Linked DNA regions of Homo sapiens. The protein of the gene in region 1 interacts with the protein of each later gene in a biochemical or structural test. Each region holds a gene or a part of one and is shown on either strand. Other genes may lie near its edges.

The links.
Region 2: the proteins of REV3L (region 1) and REV1 form a complex in vitro, tested with the Homo sapiens proteins (one study listed by BioGRID).

Annotation. Positions count from the first base shown.
Region 1 is NC_000006.12:111,479,928-111,487,419, reverse strand, and holds the start of REV3L (DNA polymerase zeta catalytic subunit), read left to right. Parts: upstream 1-4,201; 5' UTR 4,202-4,531; coding exon 4,532-4,670; intron 4,671-4,808; exon of another isoform or gene 4,809-7,492. UniProt on the Homo sapiens protein: Catalytic subunit of the DNA polymerase zeta complex, an error-prone polymerase specialized in translesion DNA synthesis (TLS). Lacks an intrinsic 3'-5' exonuclease activity and thus has no proofreading function.
Region 2 is NC_000002.12:99,399,789-99,403,130, reverse strand, and holds the end of REV1 (DNA repair protein REV1), read left to right. Parts: intron 1-24; coding exon 25-242; intron 243-330; coding exon 331-487; exon of another isoform or gene 488-784; coding exon 785-887; intron 888-1,778; coding exon 1,779-1,890; 3' UTR 1,891-2,654; downstream 2,655-3,342. UniProt on the Homo sapiens protein: Deoxycytidyl transferase involved in DNA repair. Transfers a dCMP residue from dCTP to the 3'-end of a DNA primer in a template-dependent reaction.

The DNA.
Region 1 (7,492 bases):
CCCTGTGTTGGAACAAGAGGCCTTACGTTTTCATTTTGCTCTGGGCTCCACAAATTATGTAGCTGGCTGTGACTGGGCTGGTTGAAGCAAAAAGGGATTAAAAGATACTATTTAGTTCACAGATCTCTCAGAGGGCCAGAGAACCAGACTTGGATAAACCAAGCTAGAAACAACATCCAAGAAAAACCAAACCACAAAGAACACCCATCCCACATCACAAAGCTATTCTAGTGGAAACCCATCCCAGCAATGCCTGCCAGTCAGCACCTATGACTCTAGAACAGATGCCACAACTCCTCCCTACCTACCCAGAGGAACCAGATACCTCCTTCATGGTATTTGTCAGAAGATACTTATCTCCCTGAGTGCAGTTGAAGCATCATGTTGCTCGCTCTCACATCCATGTCCTGAATGGGTACATCTGATTGCTGGAAACTAGGTCATATACTGAAGCCAACTTCTGATTGTCAGCATCCTTTCCAACTAACTCCACATTTACTGAAGTCACTCTGGTAGAGGACACATTTGTACCATGTAGTCCCAACTAGTTGGCAGGTTGAGGTGGGAGGAGCCTAGCAGTTCAAGACCAGCCTGGGCAACATCGTGAGACCCTGTTCCTCAAAAAGAAAGCAAACCGAATTGGCCAATGCTACAAATTAGGGCCTTCCCTCTTCTCTAGCCATTGTTAAACATTTACTGATCACACCATTGATCTCACACCAGCAATCTAGCTGCAAAGGAGTCTGAGAACTGTAGTTTGTTTTCCAGCTTTTAAAGTACAGAAAAGTAAGCAAGAAGAGGGTTGGATGAATACTGAATAAGCCATCTTATAGTATCTGCCACAAAAGTATGGTAGCTACTACTGTCTGTTCTAGATTATAAACTGCTAACAGGCAGATGTTAACAGATGTTGAACAGTATTGGTAAAGGAGACTTGGTAGGCTTTTACTAAAGGCAGACATGCTAAGTACATGTCAGTGAACTAGAAGAGATGATTAAATGTTAATTGATATGATTAAAATACATTTTTAGGATGCTAGACTATAAACCTTATAAGGGAAGGGACCATGTCTGTTTTGTTTCTCACCATATCTCAAATCTCCTGGCAAGAAATAGCCACCTAAAAAAAAAAAGAAAGCACAGTCAGGTGTGGTGGCTCACACCTGCAATCCCAGCACTTTGGGAGGCCAAAGTAGGCAGATCGTGAGGTTAGGAGTTCGAGACCAGCCTGGCCAACATGGTGAAACCCCATCTCTACTAATAATACAAAAATTATCCAGGCATGGTGGCACATGCCTGTAGTCCCAGCTCCTCGGGAGGCTGAGGCAGGAGAATTACTTGAACCCGGGAGGTGGAGGTTGCAGTGAGCCAAGATTGTGCCACTGGACTCCAGCCTGGGTGACAGAGTGAGACTCTGTCTCAAAAAAAAAAAAAAAAAAAGCATTAAGGATATTAAGTATAGAGTTCAATTTTTGCATTTCTCATACTGTATGTAGATAAGTCAATTCCAAGTGATTTTACTGTTTCTCAATGAATCAGACTTCTGGATATGAACATTTTACTATATTTTCACATACATTATCTCATTTGAGCCTTATAACATCCCTGAGAAGTTAAAACAGGAATTACTATCCATTTCACAGATGAGGAAATAAATTCCAAAAAATAAGTGAGCACTTAGCTAAATGATGGTTTAATATTCACATTCTCTGACTCAAAATTCCAGAACTTTTTCTTACTTCAGGAAGAATATACATATAAAACACATTTGATAGTGGTTAATTAGGGGGCTATTGTCAGGTTTTCAATTTGAGCATCAACTTAAAACTAAATTACATGCAATGAACACAACATTCCTAATTTCATGCTGCAAATGTTTTTCTTCAAGAGTGAACATTCTTGGAGTTCTAGAAGGATTTGACTTGTGGTTGCAACTGCCTTTTCTTAAAGTAAATAATGTTGATTCAAGAGGTAAGGGGAAAGAAACCCTCTTCTAGAAATCGCAAATCTGTTAATTTGATGCTTTTACCATTTTCTAGTTAGGAATATTATAATTTAAAAGTTATGGATACACTGATTATAATATAGTACAAGGATTCTCAATTTTATTTTGCTTAAGAATCACGGGGTGGCAAGTAGTGTTGCTAACAATACAGATTCCCAGGCCCCATCCCCCAAAATATAATTCAGTAAGAGCCAAAATATCAACACTTAAAGAATTCTAGGTGTCATGGAACACTGAGAATCACTGATATTGTGTATCTGACATTCGGCGTGTACAAAATATTTATTTTATAAAAAATACATTTTAGCATGGTAGTCATATTTTAAAATCACTTCTATAGCCTTCTAAAATTTCAGATCAAGAGATTTTGCCTCTTAAAAATATTAGCTAATTTCCAGCATATTAGTAGAAATCTTGCCACGTATGTTTATAATCATGCTCTGAGGTTAAAAACTACAAGCTAATTTACTGTAGTAATCAGTCTCAAATCCCTCGGAGCGTAAGTTCTTATTATAGCATTTATATGTTAGGGAATTTATAGACAGCTTCTTACCAGTGAGCTGTCTCTTTGGGCCTTTTGATTTTCCTATTTGAAAATCCACAACGGTTCCAAACGAGTAGCTCTCACACCACTTCAAATACGTGGCAACCTGGTAACCACTAAAATGCACCTGTATAACACACAAATGTAAAAGAACGATCTCTACTTGGATGGGTTAGAAATGTGTCAAGGGTCCTAATTCAGGGGCAAATTTCGAACTTGAACCCACGCTTTCTGCCTCCTACAGCTTGCATCTTTTTGTTGAGAAGAAACCCTTCAGGATTAGTTTTTAAGAGAAACCTTCCCGTTTTACATATGTAGAAACTGAGCCCAAAGAAACAAAATTATTTGTCCAAGGTCACGCCCAATATCAGTGGCCAAGTCAGAGAGGAACCCCTTGTTTCCAATTTAATAGCCAAGCCAGCTGCATGTTACTACTCTTTAAAACAAAAATTCCCTAACTGCATCGCTTCACCCCCTCTCGATTTTTGAATAAAGTTGTTTATTCAAAACGGCCCTTCCCCACGGTGGTGCTTTTATGCCTTCGGGTAGTAAAACCTTCCATAACGTGTTAGTGAAAAACACGAGGAGGCCACGTCTAACGCGGTGACTTTCACAGGCCTTTTTCTTTGGCCAAAATTTTCTCGGAAAGACTGTTAATCCTACATTCCGCTGGGGGAGGAGCGACGAGGGAGGAGGGAGGTCACCGGCAGCTGACAAGTCCTTACATGTACTTGCGCGTGCCCGGGACGCAGCCTGCGGGGCCGAGGAAACCAACGAAGGATGTATTAGGACGAGAGGGAAGGAAGGGGGCGGGAGAAAAACACGGTAGTGGGAAATCCCTGTGCACTGGATCTGCCAACCCCTCGCAAAGCTGAGAAGAGCCGTGCGTGAATAAATCTCATTAAATGGCCCGGCGCAGACACTGCAGCAGCAAAGAGGAGGGGGCACCGCGGCTCGCGCGGCACGTTCGGGAAGGGGGAACGCCAGGGCGGCCCTTTTATAGGCCGAAGCCCGCGCCCGCGCGCCCCCACCCTTCGCACCGCCCCCGGGCCACGCGCGGAGCCGCGGCGTTACCTGAGAAGGGCCGGCTGCGTCCGCACCCGGCCCCGCCCGTTCCGCCGCCCGCCCGCCCTTCCCTCCCGCGAGGCCGCAGCGGCACGAGATCTGCGCCTCGCCTCCCTCCTCACGCGGGCGGATTTTCTTACCTTGTGAAAAACCGTCTCAGCGGCTGCCCCCGCCTCCTCTGCTGGATGTGAAATGGCGGTCGGCGAGGCAAGTGTGAGCATCGCAGCTCCTGCCAATCCTGCATAGCCGCCAAAACGGCCCCGAACACTGGCGCCCCCCTCCCGCAAGCCCCTCGGAGCCCATCCATGAGATCGGTGCTCCGCCGCCCCTTCCGCTGCCCCTCACCCAGGTGACCGTGCCCGCCAGCCGAGTCATCGATCCCGCGCGGGCGCTGCCGGCCGCCGGCCGCCTCCCTCGCCGCGTGCCCGGGGAGGGGGAGAAAGCCCCTTCTCGGCCCCCGCCCTCCGTGTCCCGCCCGGGCGCCCGCCCTCTCGCTCCTTTTCCCGCCGAGCCCCCTCCCCCGCACTACTCGCAGCCTCCCTTCGCCACACACACCCCCCTCTCCCCTCCCCCCAGTGGTTGCGTCCGTGACATCATCATCATGGCAACAAGAGCTGCAGCCTGGGACCGAGGAGCCCGTGTGATTCCCGGCGGTGGCGGCAGTGGCGGCAGCACCAGCACCGACGAAAGCTCGAGGGCTTCTCTCCTGCGGCCCCTTGCCGGGTGCTCCTGAGGAGGCGGCGGCAGCAGCGCCTACACCGCCCCGCCCGCCGCTCCTCGAGGTGCCTCTGTGTGAGGGGAGGGGGCCGTGCCGAGAAGGGGAGGGGGCGCCGCCGCCGCTGCGGAGGGAGCCGCCGCCGCTGCTGCTGCCGCTGCCGGGTCGCCAGTGAAGGGAGGCAGTGGCGGCGGCGGCGAACATGTTTTCAGTAAGGATAGTGACTGCAGACTACTACATGGCCAGCCCGCTGCAGGGGCTGGATACCTGCCAATCCCCCCTCACCCAGGCCCCTGTCAAGAAGGTGCCGGTGGTGCGAGTCTTCGGAGCGACCCCGGCAGGTAAGCGGGCGCCGGGCGCGGGGCGGGAGCGGGAGTCGGCGGGGCGCCGGGGCCGCCCTCCCCGCCGCGCACACGCGCACACGCCACCGGCGCCGGCCGTCTCCGTGGATCGCTGCCGCGTCTTCCCTCCCCTCCGCCCTCCTCGCCTTTTCTCTCGTGCGTGACAAGAGCCGCAAAAATGTGGGTCCGCGCGAGCGCTGCGCGGCGCCCCCACCCCCGGGCAGGGAGGTGGCGAGCGCCGCGTGTTTAGACTGCGTGTGGCGGCCGGGAGCGGGAGCCGCACTCCAGGGCGCGGGCCGGGAGAGCGAAAGCCGCGGGCGCCCCGGACGGCGGGCCAGGTGGCCGCGCCATGTCCATCGGTGGACGGGTTCGTAGGGCCTGCTCTGAGGTCGGTCGCTAGTGGGACATCCCTTGTGTCCCCCAAGTGCCGCTTTCTGGAAACGGGGAAGTGTCAGCCTTGTTGTCAGTCGCTCCCCATGGTCTCTTCTCACCCTCGCTCTCCTCTGCCAGTTCCGGAGATGCAGTGGGCCGGAGAGAGTGGCGCTTGGGGCCAGATAATCTTTCTCACTGGGGTGACCGTGTGGCTCTGCTGTGAGTGCAGGTCGTGACTCCTTAGAGTTTAGTGCCTGAGCGTCGGGGGACAGGGCAGCATCCTTAGGTGCAGTGCTTTCAGGAAATGTGCATCCATGGAAGTAGGAAATGCGTGTTTATGTTGCCCAACCTAAAACATCACACTTAATGGGGTGAATTTATTAGGAACCACAGCCAGACTCAGCAGCACAGACATTTTGAAATGCTCCTAGGCTGGGCTGTAGGATTGCGTTTTAAGTACAGGTATATATTTTTTAAACACAACTATGTTGAAGAAGGGATGGGAAGGGGAGACAGCCGTGACAGAAGGTACGTTCTCAAAAACTCCTGGGGCTTATGATAATATAAAAAAGATAGAGGCCCAGTTTACTAGGTGTTTTAAAATGGTTTTGCTTTTTTGCATGCTTTGAACTGCTTCCATGAAATAATGGAGTTCTAGGAAATAATGCATCTTAGGAAAGGTTGTTCTTCCCTCTAGCTATGAATTGCCCTATGGGATTTTAGATAGCATTTCCCACTTGATGCTCCTTGCCCTCATCACCATTCATCTTATTACTACAGTCAGTTTCTGTGGACTACCAAGATAATAGCGCTTTCCCAAACACAAGCACTCATTTTAAAGCAGTTATCTTTTAATGTGAATTCTCTTTGTTAAAATGTCAATGTTGTGAGATTTGGTAGCATATTCCTATTTAAACTAGTGAATATGATTTTGATATGAACCTTGAAAGATGGGGAATTTGAGTGCTTTTAACGTGTTGAAAGTGTAACACTTGAAACTTTGGAGGCTGGGAAATCGAGGCGATGAAGTGTTCTATAAGATAGGTTTTCTGCCCTTTTAAATATAGTGGTGCTGTCTTTGTTTCCAATTGGAATTTCAGTGTAATGCACTGTTCTCACTTCAGATGCAGAGGAAGGATAAAATAGTGAAGTTGATATGGCCCTGTTCAGCCAAATTTCCGAATCATAAAGTGACATGCTAATAGGATATACTGTGGCATTTCTGTGTATTACAGCTTGTATGGTTTGAGTTACTTTTCCACACATAATTTTTTCTCCTCCACACAAGTCATTAAATATGTTTTCCTGAGAGATAGTCAAGCTTTGTTGTATAGGAAAGTTTCGTTTGTGGAAATAAATGAGTTTCACTGTAAGCTAATGTAATTCTATTACGTGAGGAAATGTTCCTTAAAAAATAAAGAATATTATATACTGTTGTTTTCCTGAATATTTTTTAAAAGACACATTAACTATTTCCTATTTAATCCTTCATGGACATCCCACAATAGATTACCAGCACCTTAAAAAAAAAAAAAAAAACAAAAACGAAAAAACCAAAGACTAAAAACCCCCATTGGGGTTTTTTTTTTGGTACATACTTTGAAATTTATATTTTAAATGAATTAAAAAGTAACACTTTTTATATGTACATTGAAAGACATAAAACTTGATACAGAGAAAGTCAAATTTTAAATTGTTAAGGATTATCAAATTGAATTTGCCATGTAGTTCACAGTTTCCAACAAAATGTTTGTTTCAACAAGAAAAAATTTGAAGTCATTGGCATACATTTAGAGTTTACACTTTTCATAAACCAAGCCAGCATTTTTATTAGCACGTCAGAAACTCCCAGTGAGATTAATATTAATTAAACATAATCAAAAACTGCAGAATTACCTGCTTTTGAATTATCTCCCCAAGGAAAACTAGTCCAATAAAATAAAACTTGAAAATTATTAATATAAAAGAGAGGCCAGTCTGACTTAGTAAAACTCTGAATGCTAGAATTTTTAATGAAGACAGATTTATTTGAAAGTAAAGATGTAAACATAATGCAAAGATATAAACATGGTTTGTATTATATCTTTATAGTTTATATCTTTACTAACAAGTAAAATAAGGTAATAAAAATGTGTAACACATGATAAACCTATGCTACATAAAATAGCATAAACATACTTTTTTCATATATAAGAATTACTTTGGGAGGTCCTTAATGCTTTACTTTGGTTTGGAGAGAAAATGTTTTAAAATTGACTTTGCTTTACAAATGAGATCCTGAAAAATAGCAACCAAAGATATTTTTTCTCAAATGAAGTGGCCGTTTCAAAATTATATTACAAATTCTGAACTGATTGGATTAATACCCTTTTACTAGTTTAGTTTTTCTATTATTGCCTGAAAAGCATTTTTCTGCTTTAGAAAACAGTCCAGTTGACTTTTGATTGTTC
Region 2 (3,342 bases), on another chromosome or scaffold:
GATCTTATATCCATCTGCTCTTAGTGCCAAAGAATCCTTTACTTCATCTAAAGGCAGCAGTGAAAGAAAAGAAAAGAAACAAGAAGAAAAAAACCATTGGTTCACCAAAAAGGATTCAGAGTCCTTTGAATAACAAGCTGCTTAACAGTCCTGCAAAAACTCTGCCAGGGGCCTGTGGCAGTCCCCAGAAGTTAATTGATGGGTTTCTAAAACATGAAGGACCTCCTGCAGAGAAACCCCTGGTAATTCCTTAACTTTGACCTTTATGAGATCTTAATATACCTGGATAATGTGTGAATATAGCAATTTTATCCTTTGTTTTCTTAACAGGAAGAACTCTCTGCTTCTACTTCAGGTGTGCCAGGCCTTTCTAGTTTGCAGTCTGACCCAGCTGGCTGTGTGAGACCTCCAGCACCCAATCTAGCTGGAGCTGTTGAATTCAATGATGTGAAGACCTTGCTCAGAGAATGGATAACTACAATTTCAGGTTGGCTTGGCCTGTGTTAGATGGCCCAAGGCTGAGATGTAGTCGTCTCATGATTTGAGAACATAAACAGACTAAACTATGCAGATTTAACCCATTTCTCTAACTCTGATAAGCTTAAAGCAGCTACCCCCAAATCTTTTAAATTCTGGGACTTGCTTTGAAAAGTAACAAAGCCCATTCCTTTGATAGCTGTTAGTGACATAGTTGTAGAAATGCAGTTTTCCTTTATCCATGCAGATCTCTGACTTTCTCCTTCAAAAAGACTGGTCCTCATTTGAAGTTTTTCCCCCTTCCTAGATCCAATGGAAGAAGACATTCTCCAAGTTGTGAAATACTGTACTGATCTAATAGAAGAAAAAGATTTGGAAAAACTGGATCTAGTTATAAAATACATGAAAAGGTAGTAATTCATCACTTTTATCAAATGGGAAAAAATGGCATGTCACAATGGCTGAGGGTGTACTGAGTTGTTTTAAACTTTCTGGGAAACTGTACTCATTAGGGTTAATGAGAAAGTGATATCCTTTATTTTGCCATGTTGACTAAGTAGCAAATAAGGTTCCAAATATGTTGCCCTCAAGGTCTTACATGTGATTAAAAAACCATAGGAAGTGGGCTGGGCACAGTGGCTCACGCCTGTACTTCACTTCGGGAGGCTGGGGTGGGTGGATCGTTTGAGACCAGCCTGGCCAAAATGGCATAACCCCATCTCTACTGAAAAATACAAAAAATAAATAATCTGGGGGGGTGGTGGTGCCCACCTGTGGTCCCAGTTACTTGGGAGGTGGAGGCTGCGGTGAACCATGATTGCACCACTGCATGGCTCCAGCCTGATCGACAGCTTGTCTCAAAACAAAATAAAAAAAAATTTGAGTGTTCTAGGATTTTATTTTTTTTGAGATGGAGTCTCACTCTGTCGCCCAGGCTGGAGTGCAGTGGCAGGATCTTGGCTTACTGCAGCCTCTGCCTCCTGGGTTCCAGTGACTCTCCTGCCTCAGCCTCCCGGGTAGCTGGGATTATAGGCATGTGCCACCATGCCCACCTAATTTTTCTATTTTTTGTAGAGACGGGGTTTTACCATGTTGGCCAGGCTGGTCTCAAACTCCTGACCTCAGGTGATCCGCCCTCCTCGGCCTCCCAAAGTGCTGGGATTACAGGCATGAGCCACACCGCACCTGGCCAGGACTTTTTTTTTTTTTTGCCAAAGTCAATTTTTATATATAAAAAGGAATAATTAGTCTTAAGGACCTTTCCTAATTCCTAATGACATTTCTTCTCTCCCCACCTTTAGGCTGATGCAGCAATCGGTGGAATCGGTTTGGAATATGGCATTTGACTTTATTCTTGACAATGTCCAGGTGGTTTTACAACAAACTTATGGAAGCACATTAAAAGTTACATAAATATTACCAGAGAGCCTGATGCTCTCTGATAGCTGTGCCATAAGTGCTTGTGAGGTATTTGCAAAGTGCATGATAGTAATGCTCGGAGTTTTTATAATTTTAAATTTCTTTTAAAGCAAGTGTTTTGTACATTTCTTTTCAAAAAGTGCCAAATTTGTCAGTATTGCATGTAAATAATTGTGTTAATTATTTTACTGTAGCATAGATTCTATTTACAAAATGTTTGTTTATAAAGTTTTATGGATTTTTACAGTGAAGTGTTTACAGTTGTTTAATAAAGAACTGTATGTATATTTTGTACAGGCTCCTTTTTGTGAATCCTTAAAAACTCAACTCTAGGAAGCAACTACTGTTTATTATACTAAAAGGCTGAAAAACCTCCAGGCCAGACTGCTAAGCTCTGAAATTCCTGAGAGGTCTCAGACCGGGATTCTACTTGTTCCAAGAAAGGGTAAAGCTTCTAAACCATCTTATTCTTGTCTCCAAGCATGAACACAGGAGCATGTTAAGAAAATCTTTACTACTTCTTCCATGCGGAGAAATCTACATATTTTGAATTAGAAACACCCTCACACCCACTTGAAGATTTTTTTCCTGGGAACATTATGTCCCGTAGATCAGAGGTGGTGTTGTCTTTTTGCTTCTACTGGCCATTGAGAAACTTTGATGATAAAAAAGAACGGTATAGATTTTTCAAACGTATATAAAATATTTTTATGTTATATGTTATGCCATAACTTTAAAATAAAAATAGTTTAAAATTCTATGCTAGTGGATATTTGGAACTTTTTCCTCAAACAAACACCCCACACTGACTTCAGCAAAACCCTAAAACTAGCTACAGATTACTACTACGAATGAATCATTAAGTTTTGTGTCTGCAACAATTTAGAAGCACTAAGCCCAAATATCAGGAAATGTGTGTATGATGGAATTTTCTAGGACAAAACAGATCAAGATTAAAACAGATCAAGATTAATGTATAAAAATCTCTACTAAAACAGATCAAGATTAAAACAGATCAAGATTAATGTATAAAAATCTCTACTGTTACCAGGTGCTGGCATACAAGGTAGTGTGATGATAGTTTAGTTTGTAAGATAATTCTTGTCCTAGGAGGACAACTTGTGGGAGAGAAGCTACACTAACATGGAAGCCTAACAGAGCTTGCTTACTGGTGGATGTCTGTTTTCTTTATTGGTAGTTTGGTTTAGAATTGTGATGATTACAATGGACTCGTGACTACACAAGCAGTAAAAAGCAGCCAGCTGTGCTTTTACACCATGGTTTCACACAAAGCAGCTAAAGAAATATCAGAATGCCTAATTTTCTATTTTATAAAAGCCCTAAAGGCATATGGCAGAAGAATGCTGGAAAAATCACTGTGGGAAGAATATGCATAAATAAAGAAGTATTTCTTACGTCAAAAAAGTCCCAAGAATCACAAAATCT